Regions from separate parts of the Homo sapiens genome. Here all the other regions are linked to region 1. The links come from fine-mapping of genetic effects on gene expression. A gene starts in region 1. Each other region holds a variant in brackets. All regions are shown on one strand. Distances are from middle to middle. Region 1 holds the start of MAT2A (methionine adenosyltransferase 2A). Region 2 has its middle 24 kb from the start of PARTICL. Region 3 has its middle 41 kb from the start of PARTICL.

Region 1 (7,044 bases):
CTGGAGTGAGAAGGATAAGGAGTTAGCCAGGCATCTCCCCACATTTAGAGCGCCGAGTGGGCAGAGACCAGGATTGTTATAGCATTTGCTCCTGGGTCTGACTCACAGATGTGCTCATAAATATTTGTGGAAGGGAGGAAGGGACAATACGAATAATATAAAATAAATGAAAATGTGTCCTCCTTTGTTTTGATACTATGAAATTAATAAAATTAACTGCTACTAACTAAAAAATCCAAGTAGAACACAGAAAGGAGAGTGTGGCACAAGGTAAGGTTGCAGAAGTAGCAGCCAAATCACACTGGGGCCTTGAGTATGTAGAGATTTTAGTCCGTATCCCGACAGCAATTGAAAGCCACTGAAAAGTAATTCACAGCAAATATAGTTAATTTTTTTACAGCTTACATTAAAACAAATTATGTACTAGATACTGTGCTAAAGACTCTACTTGCACTATTTGAATCCTTGAAACAATCCTATGATGTACTATTAATATTCCAATTTTACAGAACGAGGATACTGATGCATAGAGAGGTCGTGACTCCAAACCCCTACTCTTACTGTATTACACCTACACACTATTCACAAGTGAGAGAAGTAGGTAAGCAACTATGTACAGCTAAATCTCATCTCCTTGGCAGGCCTAGCCCCACTGTGGAGTTGGTAGCACAGGGGTATCAGGATTTAATGAGCCAATCATTGACTTTACGCTCCTTGTTCTGACTCCCTAATAAAATAACCTTCTAGTTATATTCTGGCTTCCCATATAGATTTTTCTGCTGGGAGATAATGCACTGACCAGCCTACACACGCATTTTGTTCCAGTTGACAATTTTATTACACATTGTAAGTTAATAAATTGGCATTCTCCTTTAAAAAATAACAAAAAAATTTAATAGTCTTATACAGTTACTTTCCCATGAAGGGTTAGCTTGAAAAGTAAAAAGCAACGAATAAAAATATCATCACCTATTGTCTCTTTTGTGGTCGAACCTTTTCTTGCTGCCTGCTTTGAGCGACCGTGGATGTGGTCACTGAGTCTGGGGAGGAGCCCTTTATCTTCTTTGTGGATGCCCCCAGCACAGCCCAAGTGCTTCCTTTGTTTCCCACTGAGCCTTTAGCAAATCCCACCTTTCCTCCTGCACCGACGGAGAGGATTGTTCTTGGGAATGCACCTTGTTCTACTGCCGCCAGCAGTAGGCAGCTGGAGACTGTTACTAGGGGTCTCCTTCACCTCCCCAGCGTAAAGTACATCCCATGCTAGGAGCAGGCCGTTCCCTGAGAACCTCATTAAACCCGGCGTTCTTGTCACGCGCTCCGCTCAGGGCCACCAGGCCACCAGCCCGACCAGACCTGCACCGAGGCCCAGCCCCAGAACAGGCTGCAGAGACCCCCGCCCCCAAGGCGGGCTCCCTCCAAACGGGACTCCATACTCCTTGCTGGCTCAAGTTTTGTTTCGCTCTTTTTCCCTGTAATTCCTTTATTGGGCAAAACTGGGACAAACGCAGGTGGACATTTTAAAGTGAAAGCTTCATGAAACAGCCCATTCCACGCCGTCAAGAGATCTGCTTAAGCACATTCAAGGGAACGAATAGCCCCCACCCACCAAAAAAGAAATGTTCGTTCCATATTCTCCTGAACAGAGGATTGAAACATCGATTCCCCCCCCCTTCAAAGGAACAGGAAGGCCACGGGGCAAGGACGGACTTGGGAGCGGCCTCCTTTCTCTCTGGAGGGAAAGGCTGGAGCGCTGCCTCCACTTTTAAGTCCACGAACCACGAAGGGTGAGGATCCCTCAGAAACTTTAGCGCAGGGGAGCGGGCAGGAGGGCGATTGTTTAAATCGATGGCAGCACCTTCATTAATCTGCTTTCCGGCCATCTTCAGCAGAGCCATTCACCAGGAAACGACTAGAAGGTGGGCCTGCGCCCCTCAGATATCCCGGGGCCGGCAACGAGCCGGGCAGGGACGCCGAAGGAAGGCCGTGAGGAGCCCTCGCTGGCCGGCCAAGATGGCCACCTTCACATGGCCGACCGCCACCGGCTCCCTGCCACCCGGCATCTAGAGGCGGGACGGCCAGAAAGACCCCAGCCGCAGCACAAAACCTCCGCGATTCCCGCCGCCTCCGCTGGGGGACGCGACCTCCGGGAAAGCTATCCCGGCCAACGGTCGGAAGGGAGGTGCCATGTCACCGCACAGGGGAGCGGGTCCAGCAAGCCCCAGTCGCTTTTTCTCCCACATCAAACAAGGAAGAGCAATCCCCCACGTCTCCTCGCGTCTGCATTTTTCTCCTAGCTCTAGCGGCTCAAGATAGCTGAACGGTCTCTGGAGGGCCGGATTGCCACGGCACCTCCCGCGGCCGCGCAGTGTGGTTCAGCCCGGACTCCGCGGGGCGAGCTGCCCTTCCTCCCCCGACCCCCGCGCAAGTGGTGCATTGGCGCGCGGCGCCGAGGGGCGGGGCCCGAGCCGGGCGCGCGCGGGCGCTGCTCTATAAATACCGGGCCGCACCGCCCGCTGCTTCGTTCGCTCCGCGCCGCCCGCCTGCTACGAGTAGAACGCTGTCCGCAGCTTGCGCATTTCGCAGCCGCTGCCGCCTCGCCGCTGCTCCTTCGTAAGGCCACTTCCGCACACCGACACCAACATGAACGGACAGCTCAACGGCTTCCACGAGGCGTTCATCGAGGAGGGCACATTCCTTTTCACCTCAGAGTCGGTCGGGGAAGGCCACCCAGGTGAGGGGACGGCCTGAAGCGAAGCGTGGGGCGGGGCAGAAGGCAGCGCCAAGGTCCGGCTGGCTGCGGCCGGCCGGTGGTGGGGCCCGCGCGGGTCGTCCTCGTCCGCCGGGTGATGGAAGAGCGGCGACCGCGCGCTTTCCTCGTGGCGCCGCCAGGGCCTGGCGCGTGGCCGCCGCTCCTCTTCCCCCTCCCCTCTCCACCCTTCCCTTCCCCCCTCCCTTTTCATTCGGTCGCGCGCCTAGGCATGCGGAAGGTTCCAGAAAACGTGAAGGGCGGGGGCTGTGGTCGCTAGTGAGTTCTGGCCGGGAAGGGAGGGCACTGTTAACCCCTCCCGGCCCTGCCGTCTGACAAACCTGGAGTGGGCGACCCGCCCCGCGTGCTCGCGTCCGGCCCTCGGGAGCGCGCGCCCCGCATTGCAGCGGCGACCACGTGTTTGCCGCATGTGGTATCTGGGCGAGGGGGAGCCGTGAGCCTCCCCGGCTGTCCTGGCCCTCAGTTTGAGGGGTGGGGGGCCTATGCCTTGGGACGTCGTCTGGCTCCACTGCCTCAGTGGTTAGGTCTTGACTACACACTGGAGAATACGCACATGCCCTTCGGCGGATATGGCCTTGCCTCCAAGGTGACGGCCTCTGACTAAATATAGCTCATGTCCAAGAAGGCAGTCCTTATTTGGACCCCTTGTGAAAAGGATGGGAAGCATGAATTAGGAGCTGCCATTGCTTTGGGTTCGCATTTAAAGTCTTCGGTGCAGGGTTTTACTTGAGGCTTTGTCCGCTCAACCGCCATTATGGGGATCAATTGGCACGTGAAGGAGGAGTAAAGCTATATTTCCAGGAACTGAAAATCTCAGCCTGAGCATATCGGCTAGTAAAGATGATTATTTGGCTCTTTTGGCTGTTTCTGCCCTTAGGATGACCGCAGTAGTTATCTATCTGGTGGCTTTAGGGTCTGGTCAGTTTACTGTGCCCATGATGAAATCCCACAAGTAACTTAGTGGTATGAGAGGACAAACCCAGGATCTTGATGAGTGCTGAAGGTTAGCTGTTACACCAGTTAGTAGTAGACCGAAGTTCAGAGCCTGCAGTCTGGCTTCCACATTATGTTTGGATTCTGTTTTAGGCGGTTATAGAAAATTCAGAAAAACGAACTTGAATTAGGGAGATATTTGTTCTCCCTCCTAACAATAGATGACAAAGCAGGGAGACATGGATTCGGAATACGTTTGAGCATCTTCTACACTGTTGAGCTTTTGTTTCCTGCGCAACTCCTAACAGCAAAATCAGATAATTGCCATTTTAGTCAGAAAATGCTTTTCATTTAATTGTTTAATCGAATTATCTTGTTGCTCATTATAATTGGTGTTCCTTAAGATTAGGGAAACTGGCCTACCTGTGGCCTCAGTTCTACCAGACTCCCAGGTGCAGAGGGGTTTGGTACAGTTGTGGAAGTGAATATGATATAGGGCAAATTCTGTTCTTTAAAGGATATAGGACTAACAGTTCACCTTTCTGGTGATTAGATTTATAATGCAAACTTTGAATTTTAGGAGGAAAGTGCAAACACAATGAATTAAGATGTATTAAGCATGTTTTTTAAAATCTCCAAAGATTTTACAGATAGTAACAGGGAGGGAGCTTGCATACATACATACATACTTTGTTTAAAGTTAAAGAAACTGAGCCAGGAATTTCTCTTTTCCAGATAAGATTTGTGACCAAATCAGTGATGCTGTCCTTGATGCCCACCTTCAGCAGGATCCTGATGCCAAAGTAGCTTGTGGTAGGTTCAGAATGTGCTTATCAACTGGTGGAAAGATAGCATAAAAATTATTTTTATAGAAGTGATGTTTGAGTTGAATGTCTCTTTTTATTAGAAACTGTTGCTAAAACTGGAATGATCCTTCTTGCTGGGGAAATTACATCCAGAGCTGCTGTTGACTACCAGAAAGTGGTTCGTGAAGCTGTTAAACACATTGGATATGATGATTCTTCCAAAGGTGTGTTTTAATGATTTTGCTCATTTTTTTCTAGGTAACAGCTGTGAGGTTTGAAGAAACTCCTAGAATGTTCCTGCTAATCCTAAACTCCAGTTGTATCTTACTATACACTAAGCCCTATTCTGTTCATTCTCTAAAAGGTCCGATGGTTTAGGTATATTTGATTTCTTCAGCAGTGTTTAGAATTCCAGATAATTGCTGTAAACAGCAGGTATTTCTAGGACGTAAACAAGATGTTGTGTTTTTTGCTTATAGGTTTTGACTACAAGACTTGTAACGTGCTGGTAGCCTTGGAGCAACAGTCACCAGATATTGCTCAAGGTGTTCATCTTGACAGAAATGAAGAAGACATTGGTGCTGGAGACCAGGTATCTTGGTGTAGAGGCTGTTTTAATCTCTTCTAACATTAAATTCTGGAGCTTGATCACATTGGTGACTTTTCTTTCTTTAGGGCTTAATGTTTGGCTATGCCACTGATGAAACTGAGGAGTGTATGCCTTTAACCATTGTCTTGGCACACAAGCTAAATGCCAAACTGGCAGAACTACGCCGTAATGGCACTTTGCCTTGGTTACGCCCTGATTCTAAAACTCAAGTAAGTGATGATCATAAAGCTTGGTTGTCTCATTTATTACATCAGCACAGAAGATCCATAATTTTGATAATAGCTAACTGGAAAAAATAGCATTTGTTTTCCTATATTGTAACTTCAGGTAGAGAAACAAATACAAAGTTATTGTTTGGTGTGATGTTCTGATGACCTGTGTTGCCTTCAAGGTTACTGTGCAGTATATGCAGGATCGAGGTGCTGTGCTTCCCATCAGAGTCCACACAATTGTTATATCTGTTCAGCATGATGAAGAGGTTTGTCTTGATGAAATGAGGGATGCCCTAAAGGAGAAAGTCATCAAAGCAGTTGTGCCTGCGAAATACCTTGATGAGGATACAATCTACCACCTACAGCCAAGTGGCAGATTTGTTATTGGTGGGCCTCAGGTAATGTCATTTTGTTGCATTTTTCTGGATTTTTGATGGTTACTTAAAATTTTGGCTACTACATTTTTTTCAGGCTTTCTGAAACCTACATGTGAATCATCGGAGGATATTTGCTGAATGAATTCAGAATAGGCAACCTAATCCACTTGGAAAGCACTAGGCGTAAAGTAACTTAAATCCTGTAATTTCAGGGTGATGCTGGTTTGACTGGACGCAAAATCATTGTGGACACTTATGGCGGTTGGGGTGCTCATGGAGGAGGTGCCTTTTCAGGAAAGGATTATACCAAGGTCGACCGTTCAGCTGCTTATGCTGCTCGTTGGGTGGCAAAATCCCTTGTTAAAGGAGGTCTGTGCCGGAGGGTTCTTGTTCAGGTATACACTCTTTATATAACGAACGATTAAAAGTCATGTAAGTGGGAGGGTATTTAGTAGTAATCTACTTAACTACTTGTTTTATACCAACGTATTATACAAGTATATGGGTCTTTGCAATCACTGATTCTTACGACATTTGAATCCTTTTAGGTCTCTTATGCTATTGGAGTTTCTCATCCATTATCTATCTCCATTTTCCATTATGGTACCTCTCAGAAGAGTGAGAGAGAGCTATTAGAGATTGTGAAGAAGAATTTCGATCTCCGCCCTGGGGTCATTGTCAGGTAAAGATGGTAAAGCCTGTTGCTAGTCAAGTATTGAGGGTGTTGGGTGTGTGTGTATATACTTAAGGCTGAGGAGGTGAAGGTGTGAAGGAAGACTCCTCAAATGGGAATATATTTTAATTCCTGGAACAGTTTTGAACTGCTGCCTTAGTGAAGACTTAGTTATTTGAGAAATTTAAAATTACGGTGCTCCATGGCTTAGGCTAACCACTCTAGAGAATGTTCCAGATTTGATATTTGAGCTTTGTGCTCTTCTACTTAAGGGTGTTAAGAAAATAGAGATAAAGTGGGTTGCTCAAGGTTTGTTGCAATGTAAAAACCATGGTAGGGTGTGGGCGGCGGGACCTTGGTAAGTATTGTGTGATCTCAGGTGAGCTTTTTGACAATTGAAATTTCTCAGAATAATGACAAGTTTTCGTATTTGTTGAGCCAGGGACGGAAAAACAACTATAGTTACTAATAAGGACTGTGCAAGGAGTTTGGACACCAGGGAAGTAACACTTTTGCCACAAATTTTTTTCCTAGCATATCCCAGAGAACTCATTTGCCAGAGCTCTTGAAAATGAGTCTTGCTGATTGTTTTGCTTTATTTTAATTTAATGCTACATATTAAGTTACGGACTTGTATATTCCAGGGATCTGGATCTGAAGAAGCCA
Region 2 (7,044 bases), 26 kb before region 1:
GAAATTTAGAAAAACCTCCCCCAGCAGTGGGGGAAAATGCACAGTGCATAAGGCCTTATTTGGGTGAGGAGTTGGGGGAGTGAATGTATTAACCTTGTAGTGAAGTCACCTTAGATTCTAGTAGTTATGCTTCTTTCAGGAATATGACCACTCAGACCATAAAAGCTGGATGTGACCATGGTTTCATTTCTTTGGAAATGATTCTGCCAGAACAGGAACTGAGAATTTTTTCTCTGTGACCTCTGGGTGAGTTTGTGTTCCATGAGAACATTGGGCTTTGCATTTCTCAGTACACTGCTCTCATAGCTCTTGGGTTTGGAAGAGGTCACTGTCATCAAACTTTTTATGACTTTAGCCCTCAGAGAACCAAGGATAAAGGTGAATAAAGAACGCATCCAAGGTAGAAAGCTCCAACACCCCCGAGATGTTTACTTTCTATAAAACCTGGAGTCTCATGCCAGAGGGATTATATAAAAATAAAGCCAGGGTAGCCAAGTGCAAACCGTAGAGTTATCAACAGTGCTGTGAGATGAAGTCTTTTGTTCAAGGTCCTTTAATTGCCAGATGCAAAAGATAGTAAAATGGATTCTTTTATTCTTGAAACTTTGCCAGCCTCGTGGCTAATGCCCACTACAGCTGCATTAAAGGCTCTGAGGATCTCTGCCAAGATGTGATGATGGCCAAGAACCAGTGATGACTTCAGGGGACCTTTCTCAACCTGCCAGCCCTGCCATCTTGGCCTAGCCCACAGGCCACTGCCTGACCCAGTCTGATTTATAGCTCCCATGGGATCGCTGTCAAAAAAGGATCCTATGGGATCCTTCCATAGAGGCTAATATTCACAGAACGCTTTAGAAAACGAGCTTAAAGTTTAATGTTGAGGGATGTTGTGGGCCAAAGGGTGGTCCTGAAGGGAACTTCTCTGAAATTCTGTGCTAGGAGCTAGGACTCAGGCACAGTGTTATGTGTCTCAGGCACAGTGTTATGGAAAGAGCATAGGATCAAGGGACAAGAAGTCCGAGATCAGTTTTTTTTTTCAGCTTTATTTCAGTATAACTGGCAAATAACAACTGTACATATTTAAGGTGTACAACTTAACGGTTTTTTTTTTTTGGAGGGGGTGGGGTTGTTTTTTTTTTTTTTCTTTTATTTTGTTTTGAGACAGAGTTTTGCTCTTGTTGCCCAGGCTGGAGTGCAATGGCGCGATCTTGGCTCACTGCAACGTCTGCCTCCCGGATTCCACCAATTCTTGTGCCTCAGCCTCCCGAATAGCTGGGATTACAGGCGCCTGCCACCACACCCGGCTAATTTTTGTATTTTTAGTAGAGATGGGGTTTCACCACATTGGCCAGGTTGGTCTCAAACTCCTGACCTCAGGTGATCCACCCACCTCTGCCTCCCAAAGTGCTGGGATTACAGGCATAAGCCACTGTGCCCAGCCCCTGTTTTTCATTTTTTTAGAGACAGGGCCTCTCTCTGCTGCCCAGGCTGACTGCAGTGGCACAATCTCGGTTACACTGCAAACTCCACCTCCCAGGCTCAAGTGATCCTCCTGCCTCAGCCTCCCAAGTAGCTGGGACTATAGGTGCATGCCCCACACCTGGCTATTTTTTGATTTTTTGTAGAGATGAGGTCTTACTATGTTGCCCAGGCTGGTCTCGAAATCCTAGGCTCAAGTGATCCTCCCACCTCAGCCTTGAAAAGTGCTGGGATTGCAGGCATCAACCATCATGCTGGTCCAACTTAATGTTTTGATATAGGTATACATTATGAAACAATCACAATCAAGACCATTAACATATTCATCACCTCACATAATTATCTATTCATTATTATCATATTATTATTATTATTTTGAGACCGAGTCTTCCTCTGTCACCCATGCTGGAGTGCAGTAGCATGATCTTGGCTCACTGCAGCCTCTATCCCCGGGTTCAAGTGATTCTTGTGCCTCAGCCTCCCAAGTAGCTAGGATGACATGCATGTGCCACCATGCCTGGCTAATTTTTGTATTTTTAGTAGAGTCGAGCTTTCGCTATGTTGCCTAGGCTGGTCTCGAACACCTGGCCTCAAGTGATCCGCCTGCCTCGGCCTTTCAAATTGTTGAGATTACAGGCATGAGCCACCATGCCTGACCTATTATTTTTTATTTTGTTTTGTTTTGCTTTGTTAGAGTCTCACTCTGTCGCCCAGGATGGGGTAAAGTGGTATGATCTCAGCTCACTGTAACCTCTGCCTCCCGGGTTCAAGTGATTCTCCAGCCTTGGTTTCCCAAGTAGCTGGGACTACAGGCGTGCACCACCATGCCCAGCTAATTTTTGTATTTTTTAGTAGAGACGGGGTTTCACTATACGTTGGCCAGGCTGGCCTCGAACTCCTGACCTCAGGTGATCCACCTGCCTCGGCCTCCCAAAGTGCTGGGATTACAGGCATGAGCCACCACGCCCGGCCCTACTATTATTTTTTTAAAGGAAGTCTGAGGTTTACTCATGGATTCACCTCTGTGCTGGATATCTTCTGTTGCCTACTCCATCCGGGAGCCACTCCCTACTCTCTCTCTTCAGTGCCCAGGAGACTGACCTGTGTAGAAACCTCAGCAGGCTCCCTTGCCCTCTGGCTTCCAATAAGGCCAACGAGGGTCTCCTTTAGGGGATCAGAAGGAGGGAGGACAGAGGGGTTGGGTGTTAATTATCCTGAGTTCTTAGACCTAGGAGGTCTCTGTGCACTGACACTGCAGGCCTCTCCAGTTCTGGTGACCTGGCCCTCCTTCCTCCCTCCATGGCAAGCCTATGTAGCTCCCCACAACAACACACTGTCCCTGTGGCTTCCCTGCACCCTGCCCCTATTTTTGTAAAGAGTTCCTTTATTAGGTTCTGCTGAAATTACCCAACTGGAGTGTGCCCTCTGTTTCTTGCCAAGACCCTGACCAATGCAGCCACCAATGAGT[C/T]CAGTGACCCTGGTCACACCACTTAGGCCCCGTGGCTTTGGTTTCTTCATCTTTATTTATTTTTAATTTTTTTATTTTTTAAAATTTTATTTTTATTTTTATTATTTTTGGGTTTTTTTGAGATGGAGTCTCGCTCTGTGACCCAGGCTGGAGTGCAGTGGCAAGATCTCGGCTCACTGCAACCTCCACCCTCCAGGTTCAAGTGATTCTCTGGCCTCAGCCTCCCCAGTAGCTGGGATTACAGGCACCTGCCACCATGCCCGGCTAATTTTTGTATTTTTAGTAGAGACGGGGTTTCACCATGTAGGCCAGGCTGCTCTTGAACTCCTGACCTCAAGTGATCTGCCCACCTTGGCCTCCCAAAGTGCTGGGATTACAGGCATGAGCCACCGTGCCCAGCCTAAAATGCCAGTTCTTACACACTTGCTTCACGGGGCTTTCATAAGGATTATAATAGATATAAAGCACTAAACAAACATAATCTTTAAAAAAAAAAACATAATGTGCTTTCTAAGTTTCACAATTCCAGAATGCGTAAAAATAACAAGTTGTCTTTTATATCAAGATGCTGCTGCCAATACGCAACTGCTCAAATATGAACTCTGAGCAGTTTTTCTAAAATTCACGATGGTTTTTATTGAGTACGCAAAAGGCTAAACTAGATTTCACTCTGATAAACATAATGATATTACGTGACCCAATAATATTAAATCCTAAAATCTATCCCAAACCCAGGCAGATAAGACAGCTAAGATAAAAACATTTTTAATATGTTGTACCCAACAGGGTAGTAATGATTTGTATTTTATTAGAAAAACTCTAAATAAAGACATTAGTATATTTTTCATTTTAGAAAAACAAAAACAGCTTTGTTATCACCATTGGCTACCAAGATATGGTGCTGGAAAAAATATATTGCTAGATTTAAAAGATAGGTCCCCACTTTAAGTGCAAGTTTTGATGCATTCTGTGTGACCTTAAGCAAAGCATTTAATCCTTCTAATGTTTTTTATCAGGTCTGTATTCAGGTGAGAGTCTCTCACTTAAATATTAGATCAAAGTGAAAGTCCTTTGTAACTGAAATTGGGCTATTTGTAATTGATCCCCCAAGGCTTCTTTAAATACTGTCATCTCTGATTATTCGTATCTGATTAAGATATGGAGAGGAGGCACTGAGGGCTGCCCTGATTTGAGATTCACAGGGGAATGGCCCTAAGTCTTTGAGGAAGACAGTGAGGGGACCAGGCAGAGGGCCAGAAGTCCCAATTGAATTGACCTAGCAATTTTTTTTTTTTTAAGAACCGAGTCTCACTCTGTCATCTAGACTGGAGTGCAGTGGCGAGATCTTCGCTCACTGCAACCTCCGCCTCTTGGGTTCAAGCGATTCTCCTGCCTCATCCTCCTGAGTAGCTGAGACTACTGGTGTGCGCTACCACACCCAGCTAATTTTTGTATTTTTCGTAGAGATGAGGTTTCACCATGTTGGCCAGGCTGGTCTCGAACTCCTGACCTCAGGTGATCCGCTCACCTCGACCTCCCAAAGTGCTGGGATTATAGGCATGAGCCACCCTGACCTAGCTTTTAAGAGGTTTCAGCCATGCTATGTTGGCTACGGTCCAGACACAGAAGTGAGCTCAGGGGCGAGTAAGACAAAGGTCTTGCCTTCAAGGACTTTACTCTATAGCTAGGGAGCTCGGTGTAACATGAGGAAAATTAGTGCAGTTCACACAAAAAGCTTTTCAGGATGCAAGGGAGAGGCTGAGCCTCAAGTGGAGCCTGGGTCCGAGACAGGACATGGCACCTGTGCAGGGGGAAGGCTGGTTGTGGGGTGGGGCAAATGACCCTAGGAAGTTAGGACTGGGTGGGCTGCCCAGGTCTTCAAAGTCAAGCTTGATAAAGTTTGCATTCAATGCATTAAGAAATAGAAGACTACTGTGCATTTTTTAGCAAAACAATACCAAGGTAAGACCAGGCAAGTTTGCTCAGCCTGTAATCCCAGCACTTTGGGAGACTGAGGCGGGGGGTGGATCACCTGAGGTCAGGAGTTCGAGACCAGACTGGCCAACATGGTGAAACCCCATCTCTACTAAAAATACAAAAATTAGCTGGGTGTGGTGGTGTGCGCCTGTAGTCCCAGCTACTCAGGAGGCTGAGGCAGGAGAATCGCTCGAATCCAGGAGGCAGAGGTTGCAGTGGCCTGAAATAGTGCCACTGCACTCCAGCCTGGGCGACAAAGCCAGTCTCTGTTTACAAAAAAAAAAAAAAAAAGGGCGGTGGGGGGCGGAATAGGTTTTGCAGAGATAGGCAGGATGAAGGGGCAAGAATATAGGGGAAAAAAATAACACGAAGCAGATTTTTTTTCACTCCTTTAAAGACAACTAGATACTTGCGGTGTAGCCCAGGATGGGTGGTTTTACTCCTCTCACAGAAAAGTCCTTCCCACAATAATATTTGTTCTCCCTTTATCATATTTTTTTAAAACAAAGGTGTAAAATCAAGCAATGCTCTCCCTTTAAACATCGTTTATCTACCCTTCAGAGCAAGAAGCTTGTGCTATTGTGAGGTGAGTGTCGTGGCACTACAGGTCCCAAATCATATGGGGACTCTGCTCAGCACCCTATGGATTCACAACCACAGATTCCCACTCCTCACACTCCAGCTACAAAAAAATATATTGTATAGACATATATATGTGTGTGTATGTGCATTTTTTAAAAAGCATTCGTGCTTATGCAATATTAACCCACTGGTATTTCAGAGATGGTGACAGAGGTCCCATCTGGCACCCTTAGTTTCTTTGGGAATCAGCATTCCTTTATCAACTCACCCTGCAGACTTGGTTTAGCAGCAGAAACCTATCCGGCTCTCCCAGGCACCGGCTTTGGCCCTTCCTGCACAGCCTCGGAAGTGCCTGGATCACCTCCATCAGCAGCTATCGACCTCTGTCTGAAGTCCAAGTTGTTTGCTTACCTTTCCTGGGCTGAGTCATTAAAGGAAATGTATTAGTTTACTTTTTCAACTTCTCTATTCTCTAGAATTTAGCTTCCTTATTTTACACACGAAAGGATAAAGGAGTTATACTGGATATTTTGTAGCAGATTGGGGGTGGGGGGGCGAGGGTCGGGGGAGACAGAAGGAGGGCCTAATCTGCAATAGAAAAAGAGAGAATGATTCTTGTATTAATGTTTGTTTTTCATTTATTTATTTTTCCTGCATGATCATGTTCACCATCATGTCCTGAAAGGCAACACCTACAGGCAAAGAAGATGTGGAAGGGCCTGCACCACCTGATCGCCATCATCCCTGCCCTCTGGGGCCTGGCAATCCAGTTGGGCAGCCTGCACAGAATGACCTGTATTTTCTGGGCCAGGACAGAAGTCAAGAGGAAGGGGAGATGCACAAAGGCCAAGGTAGTCAGAGAAGGTTTAGATGAGAAGAGGCCCTGAAAGGTGGTTGGGACCTGGAAACAGCAGAGTGGTGGGTTCTGGGCAGGGAGATGCCCAAAGTGCAGCTGTGGCAGGGCATGATGGCTCACGCCTGTAATCCCAGCACTTTGGGAGGCTGAGATGGGTGGATAACCTGAGGTCAGGAGTTCAAGACCAGCCTGGCCAATATGGTAAAATCTTGTCACTACTAAAAATACAAAAATTAGCGGGGCATGCTGGCGCGTCCCTGTAATCTCAGCTACTCCGAAGGCTGAGGCAGAAGAATCGCTTGAATCCAGGAGGCGGAGGTTGCAGTGAGCCGAGATCATGCGGCTGCCCTCCAGCCTGGGCAACAGAGAGACTCCGTCTCAAAGAAAAAAAAAAAAAAAAAAGAAACAAAAAGAAAATGAAGCTGTGGAGGCCAAGACAGGCTGGATGTGTCTGAAGAACGTGGCATGTTGCGGGGCTGGGAGTGCAGAGAGGGGATGATAACCTGGGAAGGCAAAGCCTTGTCACAGAGCAGGCACTTGAAACCCATGGTCTTTCGCCAGCTGCAGGGGTCCTGAGCCCTGAAACTGTCCTTCAAATGGGGTGTGTTTGTGTAAGCTTCTGCAGAGATGGCCATAGGAGTCAAAGGAGTTTGGGGAGAGATTCATGTGCCTTGGCTAAATG
Region 3 (7,044 bases), 42 kb before region 1:
ATTTTAAATTGTTTCCACAGTTAATTACTTAATTCTGATGCATTTTCTGAAAGCTCTTTACGAGCAAGTAAAATCATAGAGTGTTGTGTCTTCAAGGAGGTTCATGGAAAGAATATAAAGGACCCTGACAAGCACATCTTTTTTTTTTTAAAGACAGAGTCTCATTCTGTCACCCAGGCTGGAGTGCAATAGCATGATCTCGGCTCATTGAAACCTCTGCTTCCTAAGTAGCTGGGACGACAGGCATGTGCCACCATGCCCAGCTAATTTTTGTATTTTTTTGTAGAGACAGGATTTTACCATGTTGCCCATGCTGGTCTTGAACTCCTGGACTCAAGTGATCTGCCCGCCTCAGATTCCCAAAGTGATGGGATTACAGGTGTGAGCCACCATGACCGGCCATTGCCAGATTTTCATGCTAAATCAGCCAGTACTGAAATTGTTAGGATATGCAGTTTGAATGAACTCCATGGTCCAAGTCAGATTACCTGTGATAACCCAGTTTTTACCTATTTATTTATTTTGAGACAAGGTCTGGCTCTATCACCCAGGCTGGAGTGCAGTGGTGCAATCTCGTTTCACTGTAACCTCCTTCGCCACCCCTTCCCCATCCCCCACCTAAGCCCCGCAAGTAGCTGAGACTACAGACATGCACCACCACACCTGGCTGGTTTTTGTATTTTTTGTAGAGATGGGGTTTCACCATGTTGCCCAGGCTGGTCTTGATCTGTGAACTCAAAGATCCATCTGTCTTGGCCTCCCAAAGTGCTGGGATTACAGGTGTGAGCCACTGCACCAGGCCAACCCAGTTATTAAACAGTACTATTCACCTGAATTGGAAAAACAAAATTGGTATTGAAGAAGATATACATCCAATGTTAAGCATAAACTCATGGAGAGCCTGGACAGCTGCCTCATCCTTCCTGAATCCTTAAAGCTTCCACTCTTAGAAGCTCTGTACTCCATGACACATTATGGTAGAGATTAAATGATCCAAATAGAAAATGTGTGTGTGTGTGTGTGTGTGTGTGTGGTGTGACCGTTTTAAATTGCTAAAATGGTTTTTGACCAATGCTTAGTTTGTCAAATCCATAATCCTGGGGAAACAATAAAAACTTCAGGTACACTTCTGCTACCTGATTGGCCATTTGAACATTTATAGAGGGAGTTCATTCAATTGTCATTCGGAATGCATATTTTCTGGTTGTATAGAAGCTTTCCCACGAAAGAAGTCTGATGATATAACAGTAGCTAAAAGTTTATTAGGAAGTGTGTTTTTTTCAGGGGGCATTCCTGGAGAAATCTCCAGTGATAAATGTATTTGTTTCATTGAACAAATTGTAAAACAGTTAAATAAGAAACTACAGACAAAATAGTACTAGGCAAAGCTAAGTAAATCAACTGGATTGTCTTGGTCAAAGGTATTGCAGATTGATGACAATTAGATCCACTTTCAGCAGAAAACATCAGTTGACCCTTTATAAAACAGTCACTGGAAGGCCTATGCCCCTAATAATAGAAACTCATGACTAGGCGCTGTGGCTCACGCCTGTAACCCCAGCACTTTGGGAGGCCGAGGCGGGTGGATCACCTGAGGTCAGGAGTTCCAAGCCAGTCTGGCTAACATGGTGAAACCCCGTCTCTACAAAAATACAAAAATTAGCCAGGCATGGTGGTGCATGTCTGTAATCCCAGCTGCTCGAGAGGCTGAGGCAGGAGAATCCCGTGAACCCGGGATGTGGAGGTTGCAGTGAGCTAAGACTGAGCCACTGCACTCCAGCCTGGGTGACAGAGCGAGACTCTGTCACACACACAATAAAACCACACACACACACAAACAAAACAAAACAAAACAAAAACTCATGTATCTTCTGCTCCTAAACTTTGATATGGCTAACTGTGGCTTTAATGCATTATGCCAAAGTGCATTTTCACCAGGTAAGGAAGGTTTTCATGATCCACTGACTGAGGACAATTAAATCCTTCATGATCAAGAACATAGAGATTGGGTCTTCTAGAAACAACACACCTTGCCACCCACACTGCAGCAAAACTTTAGGACTTTGAACCTTGGGTCTGTAATCTCACAACTCAGAAGGGCCCCTCCAGACTCTTAGAACTGTATATCTGTTGGAGACCTCAAGATAAAGCTAACCAGGGAAGTTTCTCACCAGAAGCAGATGGAATCCTAGATGTGGAAAGCTTTCTCAAGATGACAGATCAAGACTTCTTTGCCATCATGAGACTCTTACCTCTCTTAATTTTTTCCTCGCTTATGCCTTTATGAAGACTAGAACTAGAAAAAGTCTTGTGTGGACCCATGGGGTATACTTTTATTTGTGGAGGATTTCACCGCTAACCTTATGCATGAGCAACCTTATGCCTTGATGGATAGAAGATGAAGGGCCAAAGTGGGTGAGGAATTTTCACGGTACCTTTGTAGCTCCATAATCAGTCAGAAACAGAACATTGGTCTATTTCTTTTAACCTACATTATAGGTTGAAGCAAACGTTGCCAGGAGGCCTTCACCCTTCTGAATGGGCATAATTCGTTAGGTTGCTTTTTCCATGATTTGGGGTAAATGAGGCAATGATTAGAAATTTGTCCCTCATAGTAGACTCTATAGCAGATTCAACTATAAACACTATGCTAAAGACTTCTTTAAACTTTTTGCTAAAGTTGTGCTACATAATAGAACTGCTCTAGGCTACTTACTGGCTGAACAGAGAAGAATCTGTGCAGTTGCTGACTACATATATATATATATATATACATACACACACACACACACACACACAGAGAGAGAGAGAGAGAGAGAGAGAGAGAGAGAGAGAGAGAGAGAGAGGAGAGAGAGAGAGACAGGATCTCACTACGTTGCCCGAGCTGGTTTCGAACTCCTGGGCTCAAACAATCCTCTTGCCTGGGCCTCCCAAAGTGCTGGGTTATAGGTGTAAGCCACCATGCCCAGCCAATTGCTGACACTTCTTGTTGCACATGGATGAATATGTCAGGTACTATAGAGATTCATTTGCAGGGGATTAAAAAACTGGCTGCTTGGTCGAAACTCGTAGACCATTTATCAAGCTTATTCTTTAATCTATTTAATTTTAGTTGGTTCAGTTCATGGGGACCCTGGCTAAGCAGCATACTCCAAACTCTTGGTATTGTCCTTCTGGTAGTCATAATAGTCATCTCCCTGGTGAAATATATCCTCTCAAAAATTGTAAATGTTTAATGCAGCCATGCATAGAATGTCAAATGGTCTCTCTTCAACTGGGATGACAAAATCTCAAAGAAATACATAATCATGAGGACACTATAACCTATGAAAGACATGTTGAGACCAGAAACCCAAAATGATCATAACTGAGAGTAGCAATTAGCGATGTTTTGGTCACACTCTCACTTAAGTGACAACATGATCAAAAGGGGAGAATTGTTCAACAAAATTATGGGAGGCCATTGTTTTGGACTGAACTCATGCACTAGGCCCCAACAGACTAGATTGGATCTAACCAAATGGAGTCAACTCATGCTAAATGCAGCACAATCAAACTAAAACTTTAAGGAAGCATATGGATCCCCAAAGAGACCAGATTTTTTTTCTCCAGAAAAGAGGGGATTATAGTATAATAAGGAAGTCGTCTCTGCTCTACCCTTTACAAAAAGGGAATCTAAATTCCTC[G/A]TTTCCACCTTATAAAACACAGTGTTCCACTATTTCTCAGTGGGATTTGAAACCAAGTAAGTCTATTTGCTATGGTGACAAAGTGACAGCAATACATAAAGTTTGGTCAACCTCTTCATTTTAAGAGGTTGACTAAAAGGAAGAAATTGTTCAATTAAGTTTAGCCTAAAGCTGCCTGCTTACATATTTTAAGTTTAGTCTGTAAACATATTAAACTGTAACCTAACTGGATGTGTAAACAGACAGTACCAATCACTGAGTTTTAGCAAATCACAGGTGGTCAACTGTTCAAACTATGTTCAAATAAAATAAACACCGATCTGTAACCAATATGGCTATTTCTATACATCACTTCCATTTTCTTTTTTAATTTTATTTATTTACTTATTTATCTATTTCGAGACGAAATCTTACTCTGTTGTCCAGGCTGGAGAGCAGTGGTGCAATCTTGGCTCACTGCAACCTCCACCTCCCAGGTTCAAGAGATTCTCTTGCCTTGGCCTCCTGAGTAGCTGGGATTACAGATGTGCGCCACCACACCCGGCTAATTTTTGTATTTTTAGTAGAGAAGGGGTTTCACCATCTGGCCAGCCTGGTCTCAAACTCCCGACCTCAAGTGATCCACCCACCTTGGCCTCCCAAACTGCTGGGATTACAGGCATAAGCCACCACGCCCAGCCTGACTTCCATTTTCTGTATGTCATTTTCCTTTTTTTGTTTTTGTTTTGTTTTGTTTTGTTTGAGACCAAGTCCTGCTCTATCATCCCCCAGACTGGAGTGCAGTGGGATGATCGTGGCTCACTGCAACCACCACCTCCTGGCCTCGAGTCATCCTCCCACCTCACCCTCCTGATTAGCCAGAACTATAGGTGCACACCACCACGCCTGGCTAATTTTTGTATTTTTTTGTAGAGACAGGGTTTCAACATACTGCCCAAGCTGGTCTTGAACTCCTGGGCTCAAATGATCCGCTCTCCTTGGCCTGCCAAAGTGCAGGGATTAGAGGCGTGAGTCACCACGCCCAGCCCATTTTCCTTTTCCTGTCCATAAATTCCTCTCTGACCACATGGCAGCATCAGAGTCCCTCTGGTTCAGGGAGTTACCGGATTCATGAATCATTCTTTGCTCAATTAAACTCTGTTAACTTTAATATGTCTAAAATTTTTCTGGCTGGGCATGGTGGCTCATGCCTGTAATCCCAGGCGGGTGGATCACCTGAGGTCAGAAGTTCAAGACCAGCCTGGCCAACATGGTGAAACCCTGTCTCTACTAAAAATACAAAAATCAGCTGGATATGGTGGTGGTGCCTGTAATTCCAGCTACTTAGGAGGCTGAGGCAAGAGAAACACTTGAACCCGGGAGGCGGGGGTTGCAGTGAGCCGAGATCGCGCCACTCCACTCCAGCCTGGGCGACAGAGGGAGACTCTGTCTCAAAAAAATAAATAAAATTTTCTTTTAACATGTGTAAGAGGCTGGGCGCCGTGGCTCATGCCTATAATCCCAGCACTTTGGGAGGCCAAGGCGAGTGGATCACCTGAGGTCAGGAGTTTGAGACCAGCCTGACCAGCATGGAGAAACCCCATCTCTATTAAAAATACAAAAATTAGCCAGGCGTGGTGGCAGGCGCCTGTAATCCCAGCTACTTGGGAGGCTGAGGCAGGAGAATCACTTGAACCCAAGAGGAGGAGGTTGCAGTGAGCCGAGATCGTGCCATTGCACTCCAGCCTGGGCAACAAAGCAAGACTCTATCTGAAAAAATAAAACAAAAACAAAACGTGTAAGAGGAAAGGTCTCATACTTACTAATATAAACGAATTGAGAACCAAATGCTCCATTCGCCTGTCCTGCTGCTCTGGAGATATCACCTCTCCCCTACTGCTTTTGAGGCCCAGGTTTTCAGTTATTCCCAGTCTTCTTTGTCCTGTCGTCCTTGCCTTCCCTCAAGCACTCATGACCAAAGAATAAGTAGGCCAAATAGATAACGTTCTTTAAAAAGAGTACAGAGTTCCTGACCTATTCATCTCCACTTTCCAAATACCTTTTGGCTTCAGCTTATCTCATTTTTGCAGCTTTAGCACCGAATGAAAACTGTGCATGAAGGAGCAGGCAGGTTCTCGCTTTGTGAAGCGTCTCCTTGTGCCTCGAGCTGGGGGAAGGGCTAGAATTGCAGTAACAGCAAGAGCACCCAAGAAATCGGTCTCAGTTTCCTTCCCCATTTTCAGAGGACAGTGGAGATCTCAAACAAAGCCAGCTAGGCACAGATTTCTTTAGAGCTTTGGGTTCTTTCCTCTACCAAACATTTTAAATTGTCATGTAAATTATACATTTGTCAGCTTTATCCTTTATGGCTTTTGGTTTTTCAGTCTTGCTTGGAAAGAAGTTTCCTAATCCCAAGACTTAGTTCTTCTTTATTTATTTCTGGTACTTTCATGTTGCTTAACTCTTCAATCCATTTGAAATTTATTCTGGGACTCTCCCCCAAATTAATGGCTTAATCCCTCTAATAGCATTTCTCCACTTCTTTGAAATGCCCCCTTTAAGAAGAAAATATTCTTCTATTCCCATAGTTGTTTCTGAATTGGATTCTGTTCCATTGATTTATTCCACTGATTCAGGGTCAGCACCACATTGTTTTTATTCTTATAGCTTCAAGGTATCTTTTGATATCTAAAAGGACATCCTCTTGTTTTTCTGATTTTCCAAATTTTTCTTGGTTGTTTTATACTTTAGTTTTGCAACCTAGAGCAAGTTATATAAGTCTGTGTCTATTTTCTCACCTGAAAAGGTTAAGATTGTGGGCTCTGCAGCCATATTGTCTGGGTACAAGTAAGGGTCCACCCAGGGAAACAGAGTCTTCTAGGTCTCTCTGGCAGAAGGAATTTAATACAGGGAATTGGCAGCACTGGAAATGGAAGGACTGAGAAGTCTAATGGAAGCACAAGACGCTACTATACAGGGAGTTACGTAGGAGGAGGTAGTGCAGCTAGAGCCCAGAGTGGGGGCCATCTGGTGGGATCTGAAACCCCATAGAGGCTGCCTGATGGGAGCTGAGATCATGGAGGGAGGGCCTGTAGAGTAGATGTGAGAGCCACCTAAGGACATAACTGTTGCCAGAGACACTACAGGAAGAAGAGAAAGAGAGAGAGATACCTTGGCTTCTCTCCACCTCCTCCCTCTCTCCCAGCTTTCCATTGGCTGAACCAACCTGGAAGCCAGAGAGCAAGGGAGCCTGGGAAACGCAGTTCTCTGTGATATAGCACAAAGGCTCAGAAAGGCAGAGAATTACTCCGAGAGGAAAAGGCAGTTGACCACAGCCGTTTATTAGTTGTGTGACCTTGAGGAAGTTAGTTAACCTCAG

Evidence for each region.
Region 2: its variant is fine-mapped to the expression of MAT2A in whole blood (TOPMed, PIP above 0.99). The same link has a PIP of 0.9 or more in blood mononuclear cells.
Region 3: its variant is fine-mapped to the expression of MAT2A in whole blood (INTERVAL, PIP 0.96).

The regions. Positions count from the first base shown.
Region 1 is chr2:85,536,648-85,543,691 of GRCh38, forward strand. MAT2A (methionine adenosyltransferase 2A) reads left to right here and starts at 2,521. Exons shown (of 9, transcript NM_005911.6): 1 at 2,521-2,731; 2 at 4,436-4,513; 3 at 4,608-4,730; 4 at 4,986-5,098; 5 at 5,182-5,325; 6 at 5,508-5,726; 7 at 5,918-6,100; 8 at 6,254-6,387; 9 at 7,023-7,044. The coding sequence starts at 2,641. PARTICL (promoter of MAT2A antisense radiation-induced circulating long non-coding RNA) reads right to left here and starts at 2,239. Exons shown (of 1, transcript NR_038942.1): 1 at 820-2,239. RefSeq lists enhancers at 1,439-1,528, 1,929-2,138, 2,209-2,298 and silencers at 2,329-2,598, 2,779-3,108.
Region 2 is chr2:85,510,962-85,518,005 of GRCh38, forward strand. No RefSeq gene overlaps it. Among named protein-coding and RNA genes, the nearest start is that of PARTICL, 24 kb to the right of the region's middle. RefSeq lists a silencer at 2,387-2,566. The variant C/T (reference allele first, on the strand shown) is at 2,948.
Region 3 is chr2:85,494,545-85,501,588 of GRCh38, forward strand. No RefSeq gene overlaps it. Among named protein-coding and RNA genes, the nearest start is that of PARTICL, 41 kb to the right of the region's middle. The variant G/A (reference allele first, on the strand shown) is at 3,687.